Regions from separate parts of the Homo sapiens genome. Here region 2 is linked to region 1. The links come from fine-mapping of genetic effects on gene expression. A gene starts in region 1. The other region holds a variant in brackets. All regions are shown on one strand. Distances are from middle to middle.

Region 1 (11,634 bases):
CATGTGCCACCATGCCTAATTTTTATATTTTCAGTAGAGACAGGGTTTCACCACGTTGGCCAGGCTGGTCTCGAACTCCTGACTTCAGGTGATCTGCCTGCCTCGACCTCCCAAAGTGCTGGAATTACAGGCGTGAGCCACTGCGCACAGCCAATAATACAATTTTTTTAAAGCTCACCTTTATCTGGCCCCTTCTGGTACTGCACTCAGCACCCCCCTGCCCCACAACCACCCCACACTTCTCCATTCTAGGTGGAGAGCAGAAATCATCTTCTTCTGTTAAACAGGTTATGGTCCCTTTCCCTTCTGCCTCAGGGCCCTCGCATATGCTGTTCTCCCTGTCTGCAACTCTTCACCCTACTCCCATTTCACCTACTTCCACCTTCCGGGCTCAGCTCCAGCACCACTCATCACTTCCTCTCTCCCGCCCAGATTAGGTCAGGTGGATCCCGCTCCACCTTCATAAAGCTCCTTTACTTCTTCATGGCTCTAATCATGGTGCCAAGAAAATTGTATCTAAATTATAAATTATGGCTGGGTGCAGTGGCTCATGCCTGTAATCCTAGCCCTTTGGGAGGTCAAGACAGGAGAATCCCTTGAGCTCAGAAGTTCAAGACCAACTTGGGCAACATTGTGAGAGCTCGTCTCTATTTTATTTTTTAAAATTAATTATTTTTTATTTATTTTTGAGATGGAGTCTCACTCTCACCCAGGATGGAGTGCAGTGGCATGATCTCAGCTCACTGTAACCTCCACCTCCTGGGCTCAAGCGATTCTCCTGCCTCAGCCTCCCGAGTAGCTGGGATTACAGGCATGTGCCACCACGCCTGGCTAATGTATTTTTAGTGGAGATAGAGTTTCACCATGTTGGCCAGGCTGGTCTAGAACTCCTGACCTCAGGTGATCTGCCTACCTCGATCTCCCAAAGTGCTGGGATTAAAGACATGCGTAACTGCGCCTGGCCTATTTATTTTTGAGACAGAGTCCTGCTCTGTCGCTCGGGCTGGAGTGCAGTGGCACGATCTTGGGTCACTTCAACCTCTGCCTCCAGGGTTCAAGCGATTCTCATGCCCCAGCTCCCTGAGTAGCTGGAATTACTAGCACGTGCCTCGGCCTCCCAAAGTGCTAGGATTACAGGCGTGATACATCGCCCAAAATTTTTGTATTTTTAATAACTACAGGGTTTCACCATGTTGGCCAGGCTATCATCTCTATTTTTAAAAATTAAACTATAAATTATGATTACTAGAACTATCTATGAGAACATCTTATTACTGTTTCTCCCACTGGACTGCGACCTCTGTGAGGGCAGGGACTGGGTGCTATACCCCTAGCCGCAGCACAGGTCAGGTACCCAAAACGTGTGTGTTGAATTAATAAAATACGAGTAAATACAGAACCAGGGCAAAAATCTAGGGCCCCTGATTTCCCAACTACAGCTTCACCTTCCATAAGCCAGGCATGGAGGTCTCGGGACCCCCATTCTCAGAGAAATCAACCAACTCACCCTTAGCTTAGATAGGGAAACAAAAGGAACTAACCATAAGGGTAAATGCTTAAGAGTTTTAATCAGTCCGCCATAAAAAGCTCCTCCCCATTCTCCATCTTGGGGGCTCAGATCTTGGCTTCGGGTTGAGATGAGGGACAGGGATATCAGGCTGGGAGAGGAGAGTAAATATGAATGCGGCTGAGGGACCAGAGCTGGGATCGGAAGAAAACACAGGTGAAAAGGAGCAGAAAGAGACTGCTAACCCCAGTCCCTGAGCCAAGTCAGAAATCCAAGTCCTTTTATAGCATCCAGGAGCCAAATGTAGTGAAATCCACACATCATATCGTTCTTATCTGCAAAGTGCTGTCATCTGGCGCTGAAAGCACCAGGACTGGGCTGAATTGGGCCCGAAGTGCCTGAAGGGTGTCACTTTAGGTCTGGAGAGTCAAGAGGAGACGCCACCTTGGCCTACAGAGTTGAGAGCGAGCATCATCTTGGCCTGGAGGGGTGTGCAGGAAATGCCACCTTGGTCCAGGGAGTTGGGAGGAAGATCCCCTGCCTTGGGTTAAGAGGGGCCATCATTTTGGGCCTGCAGAAGGAAGGAAACCATGGGGAGTCCCCAGACCCCAGGATCAGGGAGGTGTAAGTAGGATGGAGACAGTAAAAGAAAGCAAAACCTATCCCACGACACTGCTGGACTTGGGAAACAGAAATCAGGCTGAGAGGGCGGGGCTAAGCTCAAAGGGGAGGAGGCAGGAGGCAGATGGGAGAACAAAAAGTAGAACCAGCACACGGAACCAGGGCCAAGCTTGGGCAGCAGAACAAGGACCCAGCTGGCTAGGCGCAGTGGCCCACGCCTGTAATCCCAGCATTTTAGGAGGTGAGGCGGGTGGATCACCTGAGGCCAGGAGTTCGAGACCAGCCTGGCCAACAAGGTGAAACCTCATCTCTACTAAAAATATAAAAAGTAGCCAGGCGTGGTGGTGCATGCCTGTAATCCTAGCTACTCGGGAGGCTGAGGCAGGAGAATCGCTTGAACTCGGGAGGTGGAGGTGGCAGTGAGCCGAGATCACGCCACTGTACTCCAGCCTGGGAGACACAGTGAGACCCTGTCTCTAAAAACAAAACAAGGACCCAGCCTAGGGTGAAGGCAGTTCTGGAAGTGGAGCTAGGATGGGAGGCGTAGCCAACTGAGTGAAGGAAGACGGCAGGGAAGCTGTGCCACATCCTGGGTTCTTGTGGGAAGAACGGGAACAAGCTCCCCACCATAAGCAGAAACCAAACTCAGAAAGGCAGAGCAGAGCCCAGTGTGTGGTGGCTCACACCTGTAACCCCAGCACTTTGGGACGCCACAGTGGGAGGATTGCTTGAGCCCGGGAGTTTGAGACAAGCCTGGGCAACATAGTGAGACCTTCTCCCCTCTTCAAACCGACAGAAAAAAATTAACCGGGCAGCTGGACGTGGTGGTGCAGGTCTGCAGTCCCAGCTACTCTTGAAGGCTGAGCTGGGAGGATCACTTGAGCCCAGGAGGTCGAGGTTGCAGTGAGCAGTAATCCCGCCACTGCACTCTAGCCTGGGTGACAGATAAACACCCTGTCTCCAAAAAAAAAAAAAAAAAAAAAAAATTGGTGAGCCCCCAGGGTGGAAACAGATTAAGGAGCAACTATGTAACAAAGGCTGGAGCCAAGCCCCAGGGGAAGGCTCAGAACCAGGCGGCAGGGTCAGGATCGGGAGAGGAACCAGATCTAAGGATAGTGGGGCCCTGGTCTCCGCAGTAGGGGTTGAACTATATCCAATATAAAGCATTATCCAAGGGGACCGGATTAGCCCCCATGGGTGACACCAAGATGGGAGCGGGGGTGGGGGGTGATAAGAGACACAGGAGACAGAGTCAGGTCCCAGAGGCAGCAAGGCCTACCCCCAAATTGCAGTCAGGTTGGGAAGTAGAATCATGGCTAGGCCCGCGGCCCCGGGTCTTTCTCAGGCTCGGTCCCTGGCACGCCGCGGATGTCCGGCAGCAGGCGGCAGCCAGCCACGATGTCCAGACGCTCGGCCAGCGCACAAAGGTCCCCGCGCGCCAGGCGCACGCTGTGGGCCGCCGCCAGCCCCGCCGCCTGGGCTGCCGCCAGCCTACTAGCCAGGGCGGCCACGTCGCGGCCTGCACGGCGGTAGACACCGCTCACGGCGGCCGCCACGTCGTGGTCCAGCCGCGCCTGGCTCTCCGCCAGCCGAAGTTGCAGGAGCGAGCGCGCGGGGGCGGGCGCCGGGGCCTCCTCCGTGCCCCAGGCCTCCTCCGCCGATTCCCGCTGCACCACGAGTGGAGGCAGGTCCCTCGGCGCGGCCGTCGGTTCCGGCTCCGGCTCCGGCTCCGAGTCGGTCTCCGCGGCTTCCCCAGCCACCCGCAGCCCCGTGGGGCGGCCGCGCGTCGGGCCCGAAGGACCCAGGTACAGCTCCTCCTCCTCCGACGAGGACGCAGAGCGCTCGGAATCCGTCTCGGTCGCCTCCCCCGGCACCACCGTCTCCGGCCTCCGCAGGGGCCTCCGCCGACGACCCTGGGACGCCATGGCACCGAACTAGGGGAGAAGAGCGAAGGGACTGCACGTGAGACCGGCGCCGCGGTGGGTAAAAGGCGCAGGTCCTGGATTCCCAGCCCCTTCGCTGATTCTCTTAACGACTTGGTGTCAGCTGCTCCCCGTCTGGGCCTCAGTTTCCTCTTCTGTAAACTGGGTGATGATGGGGGTTACTGGACCCCAGGCTCTTCAGCGTACAGATGGGGAAACTGAAGACCAGCTCGAACAAGGATCTGGGGCCCGAGTTCCCGGAGTCCCAAGCCGAGGTCTTTACGAATTTGCCTCCTAGTAGAGGCCACACCCTCCACCTGGTCCACCATGCCAATCTCAGACCCGGAAGCACACGGGCCCGTGAGCTGCTCGGGACCAGCGCCAGAGTCGCAGAAAGGATGACAGTCCGACTGGACTCTGCTGGGGGCACTCATGGGATGGGAGAAGCGCTAACGCCAAAGACCGTACCCGGCAGCTGACGCTCGGAGCTTGCGAGATCCGCTTCCTAACCCGAGTGCTGCGTTCTCACCGTGGCAGCTGAAGGGCTGTGATTTCAACCAATAGGGGAGCGGGTTGGGCGGGCATTAGCGGCCAAGTCACGTGGATTCGCCCGGCTACCAATCAGGAAGCAAGTTCTCAGCATCAGCTTTGAGTGAGCGTGCAGAAGAGTCACATGAATGGAGGAACCGCCAATAGAGAAACAGCTGGGCCGGCTCTTCCAGGTTGTGCGACGAGGAAAGTCTGGAGTGGACCAATAGGGATTTTAAAAGCCGAGTATGTCACGTGTAACCAGTAATTTGGCCAATAGGAATGCTCGAGAACCCGGAAATAGGGAAGGGACGGCAGTAAGAGCAGAAGATGTTGCCACATGTGGCCAGAGAAGGCGTAGGCCCGCCCCCTAGTGTCCCAGGCTCACGCGCACACCACCTGAGTCCGGGGCGGGGAGGCGGGGCTAGTCTAAAACACCAATGGAAGCCGGAGTAGGAGGGCTCGCGCCATGACGCAAGAGGCGTGGCTTACCAAGCCTGGCCAATGAGAGCTGGAAGCGCTGGGCGCATCTTTAGGCGTGCGAGGAGGGGGCATGGCGGATACTGTGTTGTTTGAGTTTCTTCACACGGAGATGGTGGCTGAGCTGTGGGCTCACGACCCCGACCCCGGCCCGGGGGTGAGCGCCGGGCTCCGTGGGGAGGAAGCGGGGGCCACCAAGGTAACGCCTCTGGGAGAGCGGAGGGCGCGTCAGGCGTCCGGGTTCGAACCCGGCCCAGCCCCGGCCTTGCAGGGCAACGTCTGGCCCTGGCTTCCTCCTTTGGAAAGTGGCGTTCGCGACGGTGCCGGCTCGGGGTTATTGCTAAATTGAGCGCGATGATTCAGGGTAAAGCACTTAGCTCAAGGCCTGAGTAAGCGGCTAGTAATCATAATAATGCTGTTATTGGGCGTGTGCTGAGGACTCGCCTCCCCCACTTACTAGGTGTGCGACCCAATGACTTAATCTTTGTGTGTCCTAGTTTTCTCTTTTGTAAAATGAGTATCATAACGTACCTAAGCCTCAGCGTGGGACATTTATTTATTCGACACCCACTTATTGAGCGTCTGTTGTATTCCAGGCACCGTTCTAAGACAGAATCCCTTCCTTGTGAAGCTTACATTTCACTAGGGGAGTCAAATAATAAAATGAAATATGCCGGCTGGGCGCTGTAGCTCCCAGCACTTTGGGAGGCCGAGGCCGTCGGATCACCTGAGGTCAGGAGTTCAAGACCAGCCTGGCCATGGTGAAACCCCGTGTCTACAAAAATTAGCCGAGCATGATGGCGGGTACCTGTAATCCCAGCTACTCGGGAGGCTGAGACAGGAGAATGGCTTGAACCTGGGAGGCGGAGGTTGCAGTGAGCCAAGATTGTGCCATTGCACTCCAGCCTAGGCGACAGAGCGAGACTTGTCTCAGGAAAAAAAAAAAAGAGATAATGGGGTTTTGCCATGTTGCCTAGGCTGGTCTTGAACCCCTAGGCTCAAGTGATTCTCCCGCCTGGGCCTCCCAAAGTGCTAGGATTACAGGCGTGAACTACCGTGACTGGCCCGGGACTGTGTGTGTGTGTGTGTGTGTGTGTGTGCGCGCACGCGCATCCTGCTCGGTCGCCCAGGCTGGCTGGAGTGCAGTGATGCAGTCATGGCTCACTGCTGCCTCGACCTCCTGGGCTCAAGCGATCATCCCACTTCTCAGCCTCCCAAGTAGCTGGGACCACAAGCGCTGCTGGCGCCACCACACCTGGCTAATTTTTTGTATTATTATTATTTTTTTTAGTAGAGACGGGTTTTCACTGTTAGCCAGGATGGTCTCCATCTTCTGACCTCGTGATCTGCCCATCTTGGCCTCCCAAAGTGCTAGGATTACAGGCGTGAGCCACTGCACCCGGCCAATTTTTTTTTTTTTTTAGTAGATACGGGGTTTCACCATTTTGGCCAGGCTGGTGTCGAACTCCTGACCTTGTGATCCACCCGCCTCGGCCTCCCAAAGTGCTGGGATTACAGGCGTGAGCCACCGCACCTGGCCATGTAAGACATTTTTATTGGCTCTGGTTTCCTTCCAGGGTTAGAAGCCCCAGGGAGGATGTTGCTTGTTACCATCTCGATATACAGATACAAACCTGTCATAAGTTTAAAACATCATAAATCAAAAATGCATTTAGCCAGATGTGGCGACTTGCACCTGTAATCCCAGGTACTCAGGAAGCAGAGGTGGGAGGATCACTTGAGGCCCACCGTTCAAGACTAGCCTGGGCAACATAGCAAGACCTCACCTCTAAAAGAAATTTTTATTTTTATTTATTTATTTATTTTTGAGACAGAGTCTTGCTCTGTCGCCCAGGCTGGAGTGCAGTGGCGCAATCTTGGCTCACTGCAAGCTCCGCCTCCTGGGTTCACGCAATTCTCCCGCCGCAGCCTCCTGAGTAGTTGGGACTACAGGTGCCTGCCACCACACCCGGCTAATTTTGTTTTTTTTTTTTGTATTTTTAGTAGAGATGGGGTTTCACCATGTTAGCCAGGATGGTTTTGATCTGACCTCGTGATCTGCCCGCCTCGGGCTTCCAAAGTGCTGGGATTACAGGTGTGAGCCACTGTGCCTGGCCAAGAAATTTTTAAAATTAGCTGGGCGTGATGACACATGCCTATACTACCAAGAACTCGGGAGGCTGAGGTGGGAGGATTGCCTGGGCCCAGGAGTTCAAGGCTGCAGTGAGCTATGATCATGCCACTGCACTCCAGCCTGGGTGATAGAGTGAGACCCTGTCTCTAAAAAAACATGGGGATTACTCAGTGAACCATCAAAAATTTTTGGACTCTTGGAGCTTTGTCATCATTGGAGGAGACAGACAAGTAAATGAGTAAAGTGTCTGGTACATTGTGTAACTGCTATGAGGAAGATACAGCATGGCCCAGGGAGTATGCATCAGCCTGGGGGTGGGTAATAATGTCCCAACACTCCATATCCTTCCTGGCTTTCAAACGAGAAACCCTGGAGTCCCAACACCTGCCTTGTCTCCCTCACCTGCAGCCCTCCCCCAGGCTCTGCCCAGTCAGTCTAAATACCTTTCTCACGTGGCCCCTCCTCTGCCCTGGTCCAGTGCTTTCCGCTCTCCTGTGAAATGAGCCTGCTCCCTTCTCCCAGCCCATTCCACCTGTCACATCTTCACCATGCTAACAACTATTAATCCTTCAGATCTTAGCGTAACAATCCCTTCCTCAGGGATGCCTTCCCTGAGCCCCCAGTCAAATTTGGATCTCCTTTATACATTCTCCTGGTCTCCCTCTCGCACTTTTTTCTTGGTAGGCTTCATCATACTCAATAAGGATGTATTTGATTTTTTTTTTTTTTTTGAGACGGAGTCTCGCTCTGTCGCCCAGGCTGGAGTGCAGTGGCGCGATCTCGGCTCACTGCAAGCTCCGCCTCCCGGGTTCATGCCATTCTCCTGCCTCAGCCTCCCGAGTAGCTGGAACCACAGGTGCCCGACACCACACCCGGCTAATTTTTTTTTTTTTTTTTGAGACAGAGTCTCGGTCTGTCCCCCAGGCTGGAGTGCAGTGGCGCGATCTGGGCTCACTGCAAGCTCTGCCTCCCGGGTTCACGCCATTCTTCTGCCTCAGCCTCCCGAGTAGCTGGGACTACAGGTGACTGCCACCACGCCCGGCTAATTTTTTGTATTTTTAGTAGAGACAGAGTTTCACTGTGTTAGCCATGATGGTCTCGATCTCCTGACCTTGTGATCTGCCTGCCTTGGCCTCCCAAAGTGCTGGGATTACAGGTGTGAGCCACCGCGCCTGGCAATTTTTTTTTTTTTTGTATTTTTAGTAGAGACGGGGTTTCAATGTGTTAGGCAGGATGGTCTCGATCTCCTGACCTCATGATCTGCCCACCTCGGCCTCCCAAAGTGCTGGGATTACAGGCGTGAGCCACCACGCCCGGCTGATTTTTTTTTAAAGAGAGTCTTGCTCTGTCACCCAAGCCGGAGTGCAGTAGCATGATCATAGTTCACTGTAGCCTCACACTCCTGGGCTCAAGTGATCCTCCCACCTCAGCCTCCTGAGTAGCTAGGAGTACAGGTGCACACAACCATACCCTGCTAATTTTTAAATTTTTTGTAGAGATAGGTTTTCACAATGTTGCCCAGGCTGACCTTGAACTCCTGGGCCCAAGCGATCCTCTGGCCTCAGCCTCCCAAAAACTCACACCTGGGATTACAGGTGTGAGCCAGCACGCCCTGCCAGGATGCGTCTGAATTGTGTATCTGTATGATCCTTTAATTCACATGCGTCTCCCCCAGCCGGAGTGTACTTTGTGCGGGATGGGCCTGGGTGTGTATTGATGACCACTGGATGTCCTGGCTCGTAGTGGGTCCTCAGTGTGGACGTGTTGAGGAGGTGAATGCAGAGCCTGTGCCGTGGCAGGTGGGGATGGGTGGGGACTGGGATTCATTTGGCTTATGAGCAGTGCTAGCTCTTCCCTCCCTCCCCTCATATGAGTGCTTCCTGTGTGCACTCATGGCTTCTCACTCTTGATTTCATTTGATCTTCTGATGACCCAGAGAGGTTGGCATGGTCCTCCCCGATTTACAGATGAGGCGGCGGAGGCTTTGATGGACGGAGTTCCTTGCTCTCAAGTGGCAGAGTCAGGAGCGCGACCAGGCCTCCCACTTCCAAAGCCTGTGCTGTAAACTCTCACTTGCATTTCCCAGCATTTGCCCTGGGAAGGATTTTAATGGGTTTCTGTGGTCAAGCGAGTGTGGGAAACTGGCTTACTCAGCTCTGCTCACCACCAGCCTTTCAGAGCACACGAATGTGCCTGGGACCTTGGGCAGGGGTTCCCTACCCAGCTGCCACTACATTCCGATGCTGGAGTCCCACACCAGAGACTCTGACGAACCCGGTTGGGGTGAGGCCTGAGTGTCAGGCCTCAGAAAGCTCCCAGGTGGCTCTCGCTGCAGCTAGGGGTGAGAACTGCATCGTTTCCCCTCACTCCTTCCTCCTGGGGAGCCCCGTTTTTCAGGGGGCCTGTCATGAGAAACGGCTTCCTCAGTCCTTTCTCTTTATTGGCCCCACCTCCTCTCTCCATTCCTTCTCTTTGGCCCAAAAGGGTTCCTCTGAACCAGACAGGCCTCCCGTTTCCTGAGGGCGTCTGTGCAGTACTTGCACAGTGTTGACTGCATTTAGTCCTCAGGACAGCCCTCCCGATTCACAGAGGAGGGACCCTGTGCTTGGTAGAGGAAGGGATTTCGAGGTGGTTCAGCAAGACTCAAAGGCAAAATTAGAACTCAGGCTTCTGGCCCCAGGGCTTCTGGGTAGCGCAGGCCGCCTTTCCCACCAGCTTCAGAGCTCCTTGAGGACAGGGATGGTGGCTCCTTCATCTCTGTCCCCACAGCACAGGTGCCCAGGAGCCACAGCCAGTGTGTAGGGCTTTTGTGACCTCCTATCCTGCCTGGTACGGTGGTTATTTGTGGCCATTCTCCTGGGCTGTCACAGGTTGTGAACTGGAGGACCGGCCAGAGGGGCCAGGAAGGCCTTTGTTCTCTAAGGAGGAGAAGCCCTTGGAGGAAGCAGCCGTGGCTTTTCTACCTCAGAGGCTTTGAAGACAAGGGAAGCCTTTGGGCAAAGAGAGGATTCCCCTGAGTGCATGTAGTAAAGAGCTAAGGCGCTGTCACCCATTGTCTGAGACCAGGCCCGAGGCGCCCCGAGAATAGCCCTGCTGCGCCAGGCCTCCATCCACCACACCCCGAGAGTGCACTTGGGCAGCCCCTTATCTGAGGAGGGTGTGGGGCGGGCGGAGCGGCTGTCAGATAGGTCCCTGCCCGGAACACCGTCCTGAGCATCTGTGGCTGGGAGCTCCAGCGAGGCCCTCCTGGGAACTGGGGCTCCATCCCGAAGGCAGTGGGAGCCATAGCCGGGTTTAAACTGAGGTGCGCCTGGCTCAGATTTACATTCTAGAAATGTCTCCCTGGCCACAGGAATGGACTGGATGGAGATTGGCCTGGGAAGGGCCCCGCTGTTGCAGGAGCTTAAGGCAGAGGCTGTGGTGGGCTCAACCTTCCGGGCTGGGCCAGGGGACAGGATGGGGAGTTCTGAGTGGGCAGAGGCAGGATCTGGACTTGCTCAGGATGCCTTGCTGGACCAGGGAGGAGAGTTGAGGGCAACAGCAGGGAAGTCCTGCAGGCTTCTCGCACCCACCCCTCACTCACCCATCTGTGTGCCAGCACTTCTGTCTGTGTGCTTTTCTTAACCAGGGCTGCTCCTTCCCTGGGTTCCCCACCACACCCCTGGGCCTGGCACAGAGTGGCTCAGCAGGTGGGCGTTGAACAGGGTCAGCCTCTGCCCAGGAGCTAGCAGGTGCCTAGAGAACAATCGAGGGGTAGGGCAGACACAAGAGACAGGAAGGGGTGGAGCACATGGCCCCCACCCGCCTCCCTCCCAGTTCAGGGCAGAATGTTCTCTTAAAGGCAAAATTAGAACTCAGGCTTCTGGCCCCAGGGCTTCTGGGTAGCACAGGCCGCCTTTCCCACCAGCTTCAGAGCTCCTTGAGGACAGGGATGGTGGCTCCTTCATCTCTGTCCCCACAGCACAGGTGCCCAGGAGCCACAGCCAGTGTGTAGGGCTTTTGTGACCTCCTATCCTGCCTGGTACGGTGGTTATTTGTGGCCATTCTCCTGGGCTGTCACAGGTTGTGAACTGGAGGACCGGCCAGAGGGGCCAGGAAGGCCTTTGTTCTCTAAGGAGGAGAAGCCCTTGGAGGAAGCAGCCGTGGCTTTTCTACCTCAGAGGCTTTGAAGACAAGGGAAGCCTTTGGGCAAAGAGAGGATTCCCCTGAGTGCATGTAGTAAAGAGCTAAGGCGCTGTCACCCATTGTCTGAGACCAGGAGCTCCCAAGTGTCTAAAGGGGCTTTGGTTTGCTTTTTCCGTTCATCCTCCTTGGAGCTCAACCCCTTGGCTTCAGTCTGGACGTGTGAATCTTCCTTTAGCTCAGGACATTTTTCTCCTGTGATCTCTCTGATGATTTCTTCTCCTGCATCGTTCCCTGTATGTCCTGTAGGCACCACAGGG
Region 2 (11,380 bases), 400 kb before region 1:
CACGAGAGGGCGGGGGAGGAGTGAAGAGGTTGAGGCGCCCCGCCCAGTCAGCAAGGTTGCGCGTGCCCTGTGAGACCGCCAAGATGGTGGTGGGCGCGTTCCCTATGGCGAAGCTGCTATACTTGGGCATCCGGCAGGTCAGCAAGCCGCTTGCCAACCGTATTAAGGAGGCCGCCCGCCGAAGCGAGTTCTTCAAGACCTATATCTGCCTCCCGCCGGCTCAACGTGAGTCTGACCCGAATTCCCTCCAACCTTTTTCCTTTCTCCAACCCCTGTCAGGTGGTTGCTTAGGGGATGGACTTCTGTCTACGACCAATCACAGCCCGAACCGGCAAAGTCCAGTGGCCAATAGTGGGGGGTTTCTGATAGAGGGGCGTACGGGTGGCCCAGTAGTGAGGGCGGGGCGGGGCGTAAGGGGCGGGTCAAGGAGCCACCACGCGAGTAGGAAATGCCAGCCGATAAAGGAAGAGAGCGCTTGGAGACTGATGCCCTGTTAAACCAATAGTGTGAGAGATGGGAGAAATTTGGACGGGGCTTTCCAGGATAGAGGAGCTAGGGGAGGGGCTGAGGAGAAACCGGACGGGGTCCTTTGCCCGGCTGTCCTTGGGCAACTTCATTTCAAAAGCGGCACCGTGTGCCTCAGTTTCCCCACTGATCTAGGAGGTGCTTGTATATCCTCCGTTTAGGACGTCGACGTGCCTCAGTTTTACTGTAGTCAATAAGTCTGGATTAGGGGCATGGTTCGGGGGTGAAGTCTGGGTTCTGGAGACATGGCCTGGGAATCCGGAAAAGGACTTTGAGCCAGAGAGGACATTCATCTGTGTACTCATTAATGCGCTCATACGCCGTCCTTTCATTCGGTTGACAGACTATGCGGCCTTTTTGCTCAGCACTGGGAGATATACTCCTGATCCATCACTGTCAACCCAGAGTGGTCGGGAAAGTGGGAGCCCCGGAGCTCAGAGGAACTGGCTGACCCAGGGACCTGAGGCCAGCAGGGCTGCCTAGAGGGGGCCGCCCGAGCTCAGATCTAAAGGGCATAGTAAGGTCCGGCGCGGTGGCTCACACCTGTAATACCAGCACTTTGGGAGGCCGAGGCGGGCGGATCACATGAGGCCAGGAGTTCGAGACCAGCCTGGCCAACATAGTGAAACCCGGTCTGTACTAAAAATACAAAAATTAGCTGGGTGTGGTGGCGCACACCTGTAATCCCAGCTACTTGGGAGGCTGAGGCAGGGGAATCGCTTGAACCTGGTAGGTGGAGGCTGCAGTGAGCCTAGATTGTGCCATTGCACTCCAGCCTGGGCGACACAGCAAGACTGTCTCAAAAAATAATAAATAGAAATAAAGGGCTTAGTAAACACCCAAAATATAAACTACTTTAAAAAGGTGATCTTGCCGGGCGCGGTGGCTCACGCCTGTAATCCCAGCACTTTGGGAGGCCGAGGTGGGCAGATCACGAGGTCAGAAGATGGAGACCATCCTGGCTAACACGGTGAAACCCCATCTCTACTAAAAATACAAAAAAATTAGCCGGGCGTGGTGGCTGGGCGCCTGTGGTCCCAGCTACTCAGGAGGCTGAGGCAGGAGAATGGCGTGAACCCGGAAGGCGGAGCTTGCAGTGAGCCGAGATCGTAACACTGTACTCCAGCCTGGGTGACGGAGCAAGACTCCGTCTCCAAAAAAAAAAAAGGTGATCTGTGTTGTGCTACGTGGGACATAAAATAAGGGAATTTAGCATCATTGGCTGGGTCAGAGAACCACTGAAACCGCCTTTGCAAAATTATGACTGACACAGCGAAAGAGATCTAAGTTAACTTACTCCATCTTGCTTCTAACCTCCAAGCTATCCTTGTTCATTCCTGGGCAAAGGCTGAACTAACTTTGGGAGAGATTTAGTTTGTAGTTTATAGTTTAAACAAACATGGTAACAGCCCTTTCCCAAAGCAGACCTCCTTCTTGTCTGGCGACTGGATTGCCTTTGTAGGACTAACATTAGCCACAAGATTAGAAATTATGGTTTAGGAGTCATGCAGCTGGAGGGTACAAGATTCTGACCCTCCCTAAACTGCTCCTAAGATCAGTGCTTGAGATATTTCACAGACCCTGCACTTGATGGATCAGCTGGCCTTACCCAGATCAATAAACTGGCCCATCTGATCTTGTGGCCCCCCAACCCAGGAACTGACTGAGCGCAAGAAGACAGCTCCGACTCCCTGTGATTTCATCTCTGACCAATCAGCACTCCTGGCTCACTGGCTTCCCCTCACCCATCAAGTTATCCTTAAAAACTCTGCTCCACCGAGATCGCACCACTACACTCCAGCCTGGGCGACAGACCGAGACTCCGTCTCAAAACAAAAACAAAAAACAAAAAAACTCTGCTCCAGCTGGGCCCATTGGCTCGCATCTGTAATCCTAGCACTTTGGAAGGCTGAGGGGGGTGGAGCACCTGAGGTCAGGAGTTTGCAACCAGCCTGGCCAGCATGGTCAAACCCCGTCTCTACTAAAAATACAAAAGTTAGGCGGGCTTGGTGGCGGGCGCCTATAATCCCAGCTACTCGGGAGGCTGGAGCATGAGAATCGCTTGAACCCGGGGATGGAGGTTGCAGTGAGCCAAGATCGCGTCACTTCATTCCAGCCCAGGCGAAAGAGTGAAAATCCATCTCAAAAAAAAAAAATAAAATAAAATAAAAATAAAATCTCCCTGAATGCTCAGGGAGACTGATTTGAGTAATGGTAAGACTCCTGGCTGGGGCGCGGTGGCTCACGTCTGTAATTCCAGCACTTTGGGAGGCCGAGGTGGGTGGATCATGAGGTCAGGAGTTCGAGACCAGCCTGACCAACATGGTGAAAACCCGTGTCTACTGAAAATACAAAAATTAGCTGGGTGTGGTGGCGCACATCTGTAATCTCATCTACTCAGGAGGCTGAGGCAGGAGAATTGCTTGAACCTAGGAGGTAGAGGTTGCAGTGATCCGAGATTGCACCACTGCCCTCCAGTCTGGGCAACAGAGCAAGACTGTCTCAATCTCAAACAAACAAACAAAACACCCTCCCGCACAGCCAACTCTGCGTGAATTACTCTTTGTCTTGCAGTTCTCCTCTCTTGATGAATCAGCTCTGTCTAGGCAGCGGGCAAGGTGAACTCCTTGGGCGGTTACACACCATTCATCCCTCCATCCATTCATTATTTCCTTTAGCTGGTATTTTGTGAGCCTCTGCCCTGTGCCAGGCCTTGTGCTGGCAATGCTGGCGAAACAGCAGGGACCAAACCAGCACCAATCTGTGCCCTCAAGGAATTCCTAGTCCTGCGGGGGACAGACGTATCCCCCAACAGTGGGCAGAGCTGAGATGGGGGAGCCCACTGGGCACCTGACATGGCATGGGGTTCAGGGAGGGCTTCCTGGCAGAGGAGACATCTGAATTGGGACCTGAAGGGTGAGGACAACACCAGGACAAGGCGTAAGGAAAGCACTGGGGCAGAGGGAGGAGCACACACAAAGCCCACATGATTAAGGGAGTGCACTTTTTTTCCCCCTCTGTAAGTTTGGATGCTTAAAGTTTGCTTTCCAGGGCCCGGAATTCTTGGTTGTTCGGTGTTTGGTGGGGTCTTTGTTGGGGCTGCAGCTCTTAGAATGGGAAAGTATTAGATTTCACAGTTACCAAAGTGCTTTCCTGTTAGCCATCTCATTTGACCCCCACAACTGTTTTGTCCCCATGTCCGGAAAGAGGAATGACTTCCTCTGGTTTATAGAAGGGAAAATGGAGGTGTTGAGGGCAGCAGTTAATTGCTCAGGTCATACGCAGAGATTTGTGCCAGAGGCGAAACTTTGGACACTGAATTCCTAGACCCAGTTTGTTTCCTGTCTCTGCCTGTCTTCCAAACACTGTGACATTCTTAGCGTTGTGGTTTAGAAAATGGCTTCTGGAGCTGGGCGCAGTGGCTCATGCCTGTAATCCCAGCACTTTGGAAGGCGGAGGTGGGTGGATCATGAGGTCAGGAGTTCAAGACCAGCCTGGCCAACATGGTGAAACCCTGTCTCTACTCAAAATACAAAATTAGGCAGGTGTGGTGGCGCACACCTGTAGTCCCAGCTACTTGGGAGGCTGAGGCAGGAGAATTGCTTGAACCTGGGAGGCAGAGGTTGCAGTGAGCCAAGATCACACCACTGCACTCCAGCTTGGGCGACAGAGCGAGACTCTGTCTCAATAAATAAATAAATAAATAAATAAATAAATAAATAGGCTTCTGTGCTGGGCGCGGTGCCTCCCACCTATAATCCCAGCACTTTGGGAGGCCGAGGCAGGCAGATCACCTGAGGTCGGGAATTAGAGACCAGCCTCACCAACATGGAGAAACCCCGTCTCTACTAAAAATACAAAATTAGCCAGACGTGGTGGCGCATGCCTGTAATCCCAGCTACTCGGGAGGCTGAGGCAGGAGAATCGCTTGAACCCAGGAGGTGGAGGTTGCAGTGAGCCGAGATCACGCCATTGCACTCCAGCCTGGGCAACAAGAGTGAAACTCTGTCTCAAAAAAAAAAAAAAAAAGGCCGGGTGCAGTGGCTCGCGCCTGTAATCCCAACACTTTGGGAGGCCAAGGTGGGCAGATCACGAAGTCAAATTTCAAGACCTGCCTGACCAACATGGTGAAACCCCTTCTCTACTAAAAATACAAAAATTAGCTGGGCGTGGTGGCACGCGCCTGTAATCCCAGCTACTCGGGAGGCTGAGGCAGAAGAATCACTTGAACATGGGAGGCGGAGGTTGCAGTGAGCCGAGATCGTGCCACTACACTCCAGCCTGGGTGACAGAGCGAGACTCCATATCAAAAAAAAAAAAA[GAAAAAAAAAAA/A]GAAAGAAAATGGCTTCTGGAGTCAGACTGACATAGGTTTGAATCCCTACCCAGACTGGTGACTTTGGGTACGTCATTTAGCCCCTCTTAGCTTCAATTTCCGATTCTGTACATTGGGTATTATGTAATGGTCACATTAACTGGGCTTGTACTTTGTGCCACGGCTTGTCTGCAGCACCTTCCAGCCTCTGGCACTGGGTCCTCACCAGTTATGATGAGGTAGATACTATTATTATTATTATTATTATTTTGTGTATATACTATGTATGCATTATGCTGTAAATAATATTTATTGTGTTGTGGTGAGGATTAAGTAAATGGATATAAAATGTTAAGTCAGTGCCTGGCATAGGGTCATGGCTGTCACGTAGATGTTATAGATACAACAGGCAGGAAAAAGCAAAACATCTTGCCCTCAGGTACCTTACATTCTTGTGGAGGAAGCCAGACAATAAATGAAATAAATAGTTGGCTGGGCCCAGTGGCTCATGCCTGTAATCCCAGCACTTTGGGAGGCTGAGGCTGGTGCATCACTTGAGGTCAGGAGTTTGAGACCAGCCTGGGCAACATGGTGAAACCCCATCTCTACTAAAAATACAAAAATTAGCCAGGTGTGGTGGCAGGCACCTGTAATCCCAGTTACTTAGGAGGCTTAGGCAGGAGAATCACTTGAACCCAAGAGGCAGAGGTTGCAGTGAGCCGAGATTGCACCACTGCACTCCAGCCTGGGTGACAGAGTGAGATTCCATCTCAAAAAATAGTTAAAAGATGAAGTATATTAGATAGCAATAATTGCTCTAGGAAAAAAATCAGGGTTGTAGAACAAGGAGTATTTAAAGGAAGGCTATAAGCCTAGATAGGATTGTCAGGGAGAACTCACTGAAAATATGCCAAGGAGGGAGGGAACGAGCAGCATTGCCATCTGGGGGAAGAAACGTTCCAGCCCAGAGGATCCCGCATGCACACAGGACCTGAGGCATGAGCGTGCCTGGCACACAGGACAGAGGAAACTGATGACGGGAAAGGGGGACAGTTTGTATGGGGCCTGTGGGTCACTGCAAATGCCTTGGCTTTACTCTGAGTGGAACAGGACTTACTGGAGGGTTCTGTGCAGCAGAAGGACAATATCAGAGTTCTGTTTTATTTTATTTTATTTTATTTTTTGAGACAGAGTCGCACTCCGACACCCAGGCTGGAGTGCAATGGTGTGATCTTGGCTCACCACAACTTCCGCCTCCCGGGTTCAAGTGATTCTCCTGCCTCAGCCTCCCGAGTAGCTGGGATTACAGGCATGCGCCACCACGCCCGGCTAATTTTGTATTTTAAGTAGAGATGGGGTTTCTCCATGTTGATCAGGCTGGTCTCTAACTCCCAACGTCAGGAGATCTGCCCGCCTTGGCCTCCCAAAGTGCTGGGATTACAGGCATGAGCCACCACGCCTGGCCCGGGAGCAGAGTTTTTAAGGATAACTTGGTGGGTGAGGGGAAGCCAGTGAGCCAGGAGTGCTGATTGGTCAGAGATGAAATCATAGGAATTCAGAGATGTCTTGTGCTCAGTTAGTTCCTGGGTGGCGGTGGGGGAGGGGGAGGGCGGGCACAAGATCAGATGAGCCAATTTTTTGATCTGGGTGGGGCCAGCTGATCCATCAAGTGCAGAGTCTGCAGAATATCTCAAGCACTGATCTTAGGAGCAGTTTAGGGAGGGTCAGAATCTTGTATCCTCCAGCTGCATGACTCCTAAACCATAATTTCTAATCTTGTGGCTAATGTTAGTCCTACAAAGGCAATCTAGTCACCAGGCAAGAAGGAGGTCTGCTTTGGGAAAGGGCTGTTACCATGTTTGTTTAAACTATAAACTAAGTTTCTCCCAAAGTTAGTTCAGCCTTCACTCAGGAATGAACAAGGACAGCTTGGAGGTTGGAAGTAAGATGGAGTCAGTCAAGTTAGATCTCTTTTGCTGTGTCAGTCATAATTTTGCAAAGGCAGTTTCAGGATTACAGGCGTGAGCCACCACGCCTGGCCTCAAAATCTAAAATATTTACTCTCTGCCCCTTTACAGGAAGAGTTTTCTGACCCTGCTCTAGAATAGTATCCCTGCCCTTGTTTTTTGACATTGACATTGGAGCCAGTCCTCTGATTGATAGTGTGTCCCGATGTCTGGAGTCTCCTGATTGCTTCCCCGATTGGATTCATGTTGAACATGTTTGGCGGGAACACCACAGACTCGAGGTGCCTCCTAAGGACATCCCTTCAGGGGACTCCTGAGGTCTATTTGTTCTGTCATTTGTGATGGTGATTTGGATCGCTTGGTTAAGGTGTAACCATGTCAAGAACCTTTCCTTTTCCTCTTAGTAATGAATAACCAGTAGATTTGTTTACAAGGTAGAGCCAGCAGGATTTCCCATGGATTGGGTGTGAGACAGCCGACTGGAGGAGGGGCAGGTTGGACAGAAAGACCTGGAGCTCAGTTAGGGACAGGTCGAGTTGGAGATGCTACCAGATATTGCAATGTACTGGCTTCTTACATTTACACCTTTTAATTACATCATTAGTGTCTTCACACTGCTGATTGCCCTTTGCTGTGGCCCCCAGCCATGGTGATTGGAATTTCCCAGGGTGCACTGGCGGCCCTGCTTTCTCTCAGGTCAGGCGTCCTGAGCTGACCAGCAAATCCAGTATCTGTACCTTTGGCTGAGATACTTTTGACTCAGCAGGCTGCGCCCAGCTGTCTCACAGGAGAGGCTGGAGCAGTAGCTGTGGCTGCCTGAGGAAAGAACAGTACATGCTAGAAGCATAAATCATCGATGATGCACCCTGTTGGGGAGGCAAAGATCTTTTTAAACACAGAATTCCTTTGTTTAAATTATTTTAACCCAAAAGTAAAGGAGGTTGGTGATGTTAGGCAGGTTGAGGCCATGCCTGCAAAGTGCACTTTTGGTGCTCCCAGGGAGGCTGTGAGATATCTCTGGGCAGTAGGAAAATTCCAGCTCATCTGTGTTTATTCCTTTGGCGCGCACTGGTCCTTTTTCTGGTTTATCACACACAGTAGGCAGTAGAGTGACTGGTCCCCCAAAGATGTCCACATCCTTATCCCAAGAACCTGTTGAATATGTTACCATGCACAGCAAAGGTGACTTTGCAAATGTGATCAAATGAAGGATTTGGGGATGGGGAGATGATCCTGAATTATGCAGGTCAGGTCAGTGTGATCACAGGGGTCCTTATAAGGGAAAGAGGGAGGCAAGAGAGGGAATGATTTGAGGGATGCTGCCCCGCTGGCCTTGAAGATGGAGGAAGGGAGGCATGAGCCAAGGAATGCGGGCAGCCTCTGGAAGCTGGAAAAGCCGAGGAGATGGATTCTCCACTGGAGACTTCAGAAAGGAACACAGCCCTGCGGACACCTTGAGATTAGCCTAGTGAAAGCCATTTTGGACTTTTTTTTTTGGGGGGGGGGGGATGGAGTTTCATTCTTGTTGCCCAGATTGCAGTGCAGTGGCACGATCTCAACTCACTGCAATCTCTGCCTCCTGGGTTCAAGCGATTCTCCTGCCTCAGTCCCCTGAGTAGCACCCACCACCACACCTGGCACCCACCACCACACCTGGCTAATTTTTTGTATTTTTAGTAGAGATAGGGTTTCACCATGTTGGCTAGGCTGGTCTTGAACTCCTGACCTCAGGTGATCCACCTGCCTTGGCCTCCCAAAGTGCTGGGATTACAGGCGTGAGCCACTGCGCCCAGTTTTTTGTTTTGTTTTGTTTTGTTTTTTGAGAGGGGGTCTCACATGGTCGCCCAGGCTGGATTACAGTGGCATGATCTCAGCTCCCTGCAACCTCTGCATCCCGGTTTCAAGCGATTCTCCTGCCTTGGCCTCCTGAATAGCTGGGATTACAGGCGCATGCCCTAATTTTTGTATTATCAGTAGAGACGGGGGTTTCACCATGTTGGCCAGCTGGTCTTCAACTCCTGACCTCAGGTGATCCACCCGCCTTGGCCTCCCAGAGTGCTGGGATTACAGGCGTGAGCCACCACAACTGGCCCCCATTTCAGACTTCTGACTTCTGGAACTGTAAAATAATAAATTTAGGGCAGGTGCGGTGGTTCATGCCTGTTATCCCAGCACTTTAGAAGGTCGAGGCAGGAGGATCACTTGAACCCAGGGGTTCAAGACCAGCCTGGGCAACAAAGCGAGACCTTGTCCCTACTAAAAATAAAAAACAATTAGTGGGGCATGGTGATGCATGCCTATAGTTTTAGCCACTCAGGAGGCTGCGGCAGGATTGCTTGAGCCCAGGAGAATGAGGCTGCAGTGAGCTGTGACCGCACCCCTGCACTCCAGCCTGGGTGACAGAGCAAGACCCTGTCTCAAATAATAATAATAATTTGTGCTGTTTTAAGCCACTGCATTTGTGGTAGTTTGTTATAGTGGCCGTGGGAAACAGATACACCATGATCATTCATTCAGGTTGCTGAGGTCATTTTTTCAGAAGTGCTCAGCTCTGTGGCCATTCTTATGAATTTAGGCCATGGACTTGGTTTCAGTTTTCTTTTTCTACATAGCCATCTGATCCAAAGCTTGGTGGCTTACCGTAGTAACTCTTAGCCAGGTGCAGTGGCTCATGCCTGTAATCTCAGCACTTTGGGAGGTTGAGGTGGGTGGATCACTTCAGGCCAGGAGTTCGCGACTAGCCTGGGCAACATGGCAAAACCCTTTCTTTACTAAAAATACAAAAATTTAGCGGGTACCTGTGGTCCCAGCTTCTCAGGAGGCTGAGGCAGGAGAATCGCTTGAACCTGAGAGAGGTGGAGGCTGCAGTGAACCGAGATCGTGCCACAGCACTCCAGCCTGGGCAACAGAGCAAGACCCTGTCTCAAAAAGGCAAACAAACAAAAAACCCAGTCACTCTTAGTTTCTGTTACCTTTGTGGCTTGCCTGGGCTCAGCCGGACAGTTCTTTTGCTGGTTGCTGCTTGGCAGGCTCTCATCCAGGTGCAGGTGGAGGTGGCTGGGCTGGAGTCATCTGGAACTGGCACTGGGACTGGGGAGTTGGTTCCCTCTCAGCGTAGCCTCTGGGCCTCTCTTCTCCACGTGGTCTTTCCTGCAGGGTAGCTGAATATCTCACATGGCTGCTCAGGACTCCCCAACAGCCAGATTTTCATGAGGGAAGAAGCAGAAGCTGCAGGTTATTTAAGGGCAAGGCCTGGAATCTTCCAGCGTCATTTCCACCACACTATTGGTCAAAGCAGCTCCAGGCACAGACCACAGTGGGTGTGGGAAAGAACTGCACAGGGTGTGATACGAAGGGGTCCCTGATGGCACAGTCTGCCACAGAGTAGGCACTCTTGGCTTCGGATCTTGGCACTGCTGCTTATTAGCCATGTGACTTTGAGCAGGCAGCTTGACCTCTATGAGCCTCCATTTCCATATTTATCAAATGGGATACTAATAGAACTTATCTCCCAGGATTCTTGTGAGGATGCAGCAGGATAGTGGATAGGCGAGCCCTGGCCCGGGACATGCCCATCTGGTTGCTACTACAGGCTACAGGGGGTATACATGGAATCCGTTTTTTTTTTCTTTTTTTTTTTTTTTTTTGAGACAGAGTCTTGCTCTGTCGCCCAGGCTGGAGTGCAGTGGCACGATTTTGGCTCATTGCAAGCTCCGCCTCCCGGGTTCACGCCATTCTCCTGCCTCTCAGCCTCCCGAGTAGCTGGGACTACAGGCGCCCGCCACCACGCCCAGCTAATATTTTTTGTATTTTTAGTAGAGACGGGGTTTCACCATGTTAGCCAGGATGGTCTCGATCTCCTGACCTCGTGATCCGCCCGCCTCAGCCTCCCAAAGTGCTGGGATTACAGGCGTGAGCCACTGCGCCCAGCCCCCTTTGTTTTTTTTGAGATGGAGTCTAACTTTGTTGCCCAGGCTTTTGCCTTCCTGAGTAGCTGGGATTACAGGCGCCTGCCACCACGCCCAGCTAATTTTTGTATTTTTAGTAGAGACGGGGTTTCACCATGTTGGTCAGGCTGGTCTCCAACTCCTGACCTCAAGTGATCCGCCCGCTGTGGCCTCCCAAAGTGTTGGGATTACAGGCGTGAGCCACCGCACCCAGCCGGAATCCCTTCTTGTCATTACTGCCCAAGTGCCAAAACCTCTGCTTCTAGATAAAGACTTCGTGCACTCAGATCCTTGCCCTGCTGTTTACGTGGTGTGTGTCCTGCATGAGTCCCTCTGCCTTTCTGTACCGAATAGCACTTAACCTCATAGTTCTGATGTTCCCTCAGCACCATTCAGTAAACAGTGTTTACTGTTTACTGTTTGCAGCGCGGCCTCGAACCAGGCTGCCTGCTTATCTGTCCCCGCTCTGCCACTTTCTGTGTGACCCCAGGGAGAGTTATTTAACCTCTCTGGGCCTCAGTTTTATGCTTGTAATTGGGTTGTTATGTGGATATTAAGATCCATAAAACATAGAACTGTACCTGGCCCTCAAGTACTCTGTACATGTTTATTTACTTATTTATTCATTT

Alleles and levels. Alleles are on the strand shown, and positions count from the first base shown. SD is a standard deviation of normalised expression in the study named.
As copies of A replace GAAAAAAAAAAA in region 2, the expression in monocytes of the gene that starts at base 5,113 in region 1 goes down (large effect, 1.2 SD a copy in BLUEPRINT).

The links. PIP is the estimated chance that this variant, and not a neighbour inherited with it, causes the effect. A credible set is the group of variants that fine-mapping cannot tell apart.
Region 2: its variant is the best candidate, but not a certain one, in a credible set for the expression of TRAPPC6A in monocytes (BLUEPRINT, PIP 0.75).

The regions. Positions count from the first base shown.
Region 1 is chr19:45,171,716-45,183,349 of GRCh38, reverse strand. It overlaps TRAPPC6A (trafficking protein particle complex subunit 6A), which reads left to right and starts at 5,113. Exons shown (of 6, transcript NM_001270891.2): 1 at 5,113-5,215. The coding sequence starts at 5,132. BLOC1S3 (biogenesis of lysosomal organelles complex 1 subunit 3) reads right to left here and starts at 4,566. Exons shown (of 2, transcript NM_212550.5): 1 at 4,519-4,566; 2 at 1,550-4,062. The coding sequence starts at 4,053. The coding sequence ends at 3,445. RefSeq lists enhancers at 2,352-2,853, 3,279-3,779, 4,320-4,639, 4,710-4,779, 4,792-5,735 and silencers at 3,660-3,969, 5,140-5,359.
Region 2 is chr19:45,573,468-45,584,847 of GRCh38, reverse strand. OPA3 (outer mitochondrial membrane lipid metabolism regulator OPA3) reads left to right here and starts at 46. Exons shown (of 2, transcript NM_025136.4): 1 at 46-225. The coding sequence starts at 84. RefSeq lists enhancers at 1-166, 1,002-1,937, 1,938-2,873, 3,373-3,873, 7,324-7,473 and 1 more. The variant GAAAAAAAAAAA/A (reference allele first, on the strand shown) is at 4,847.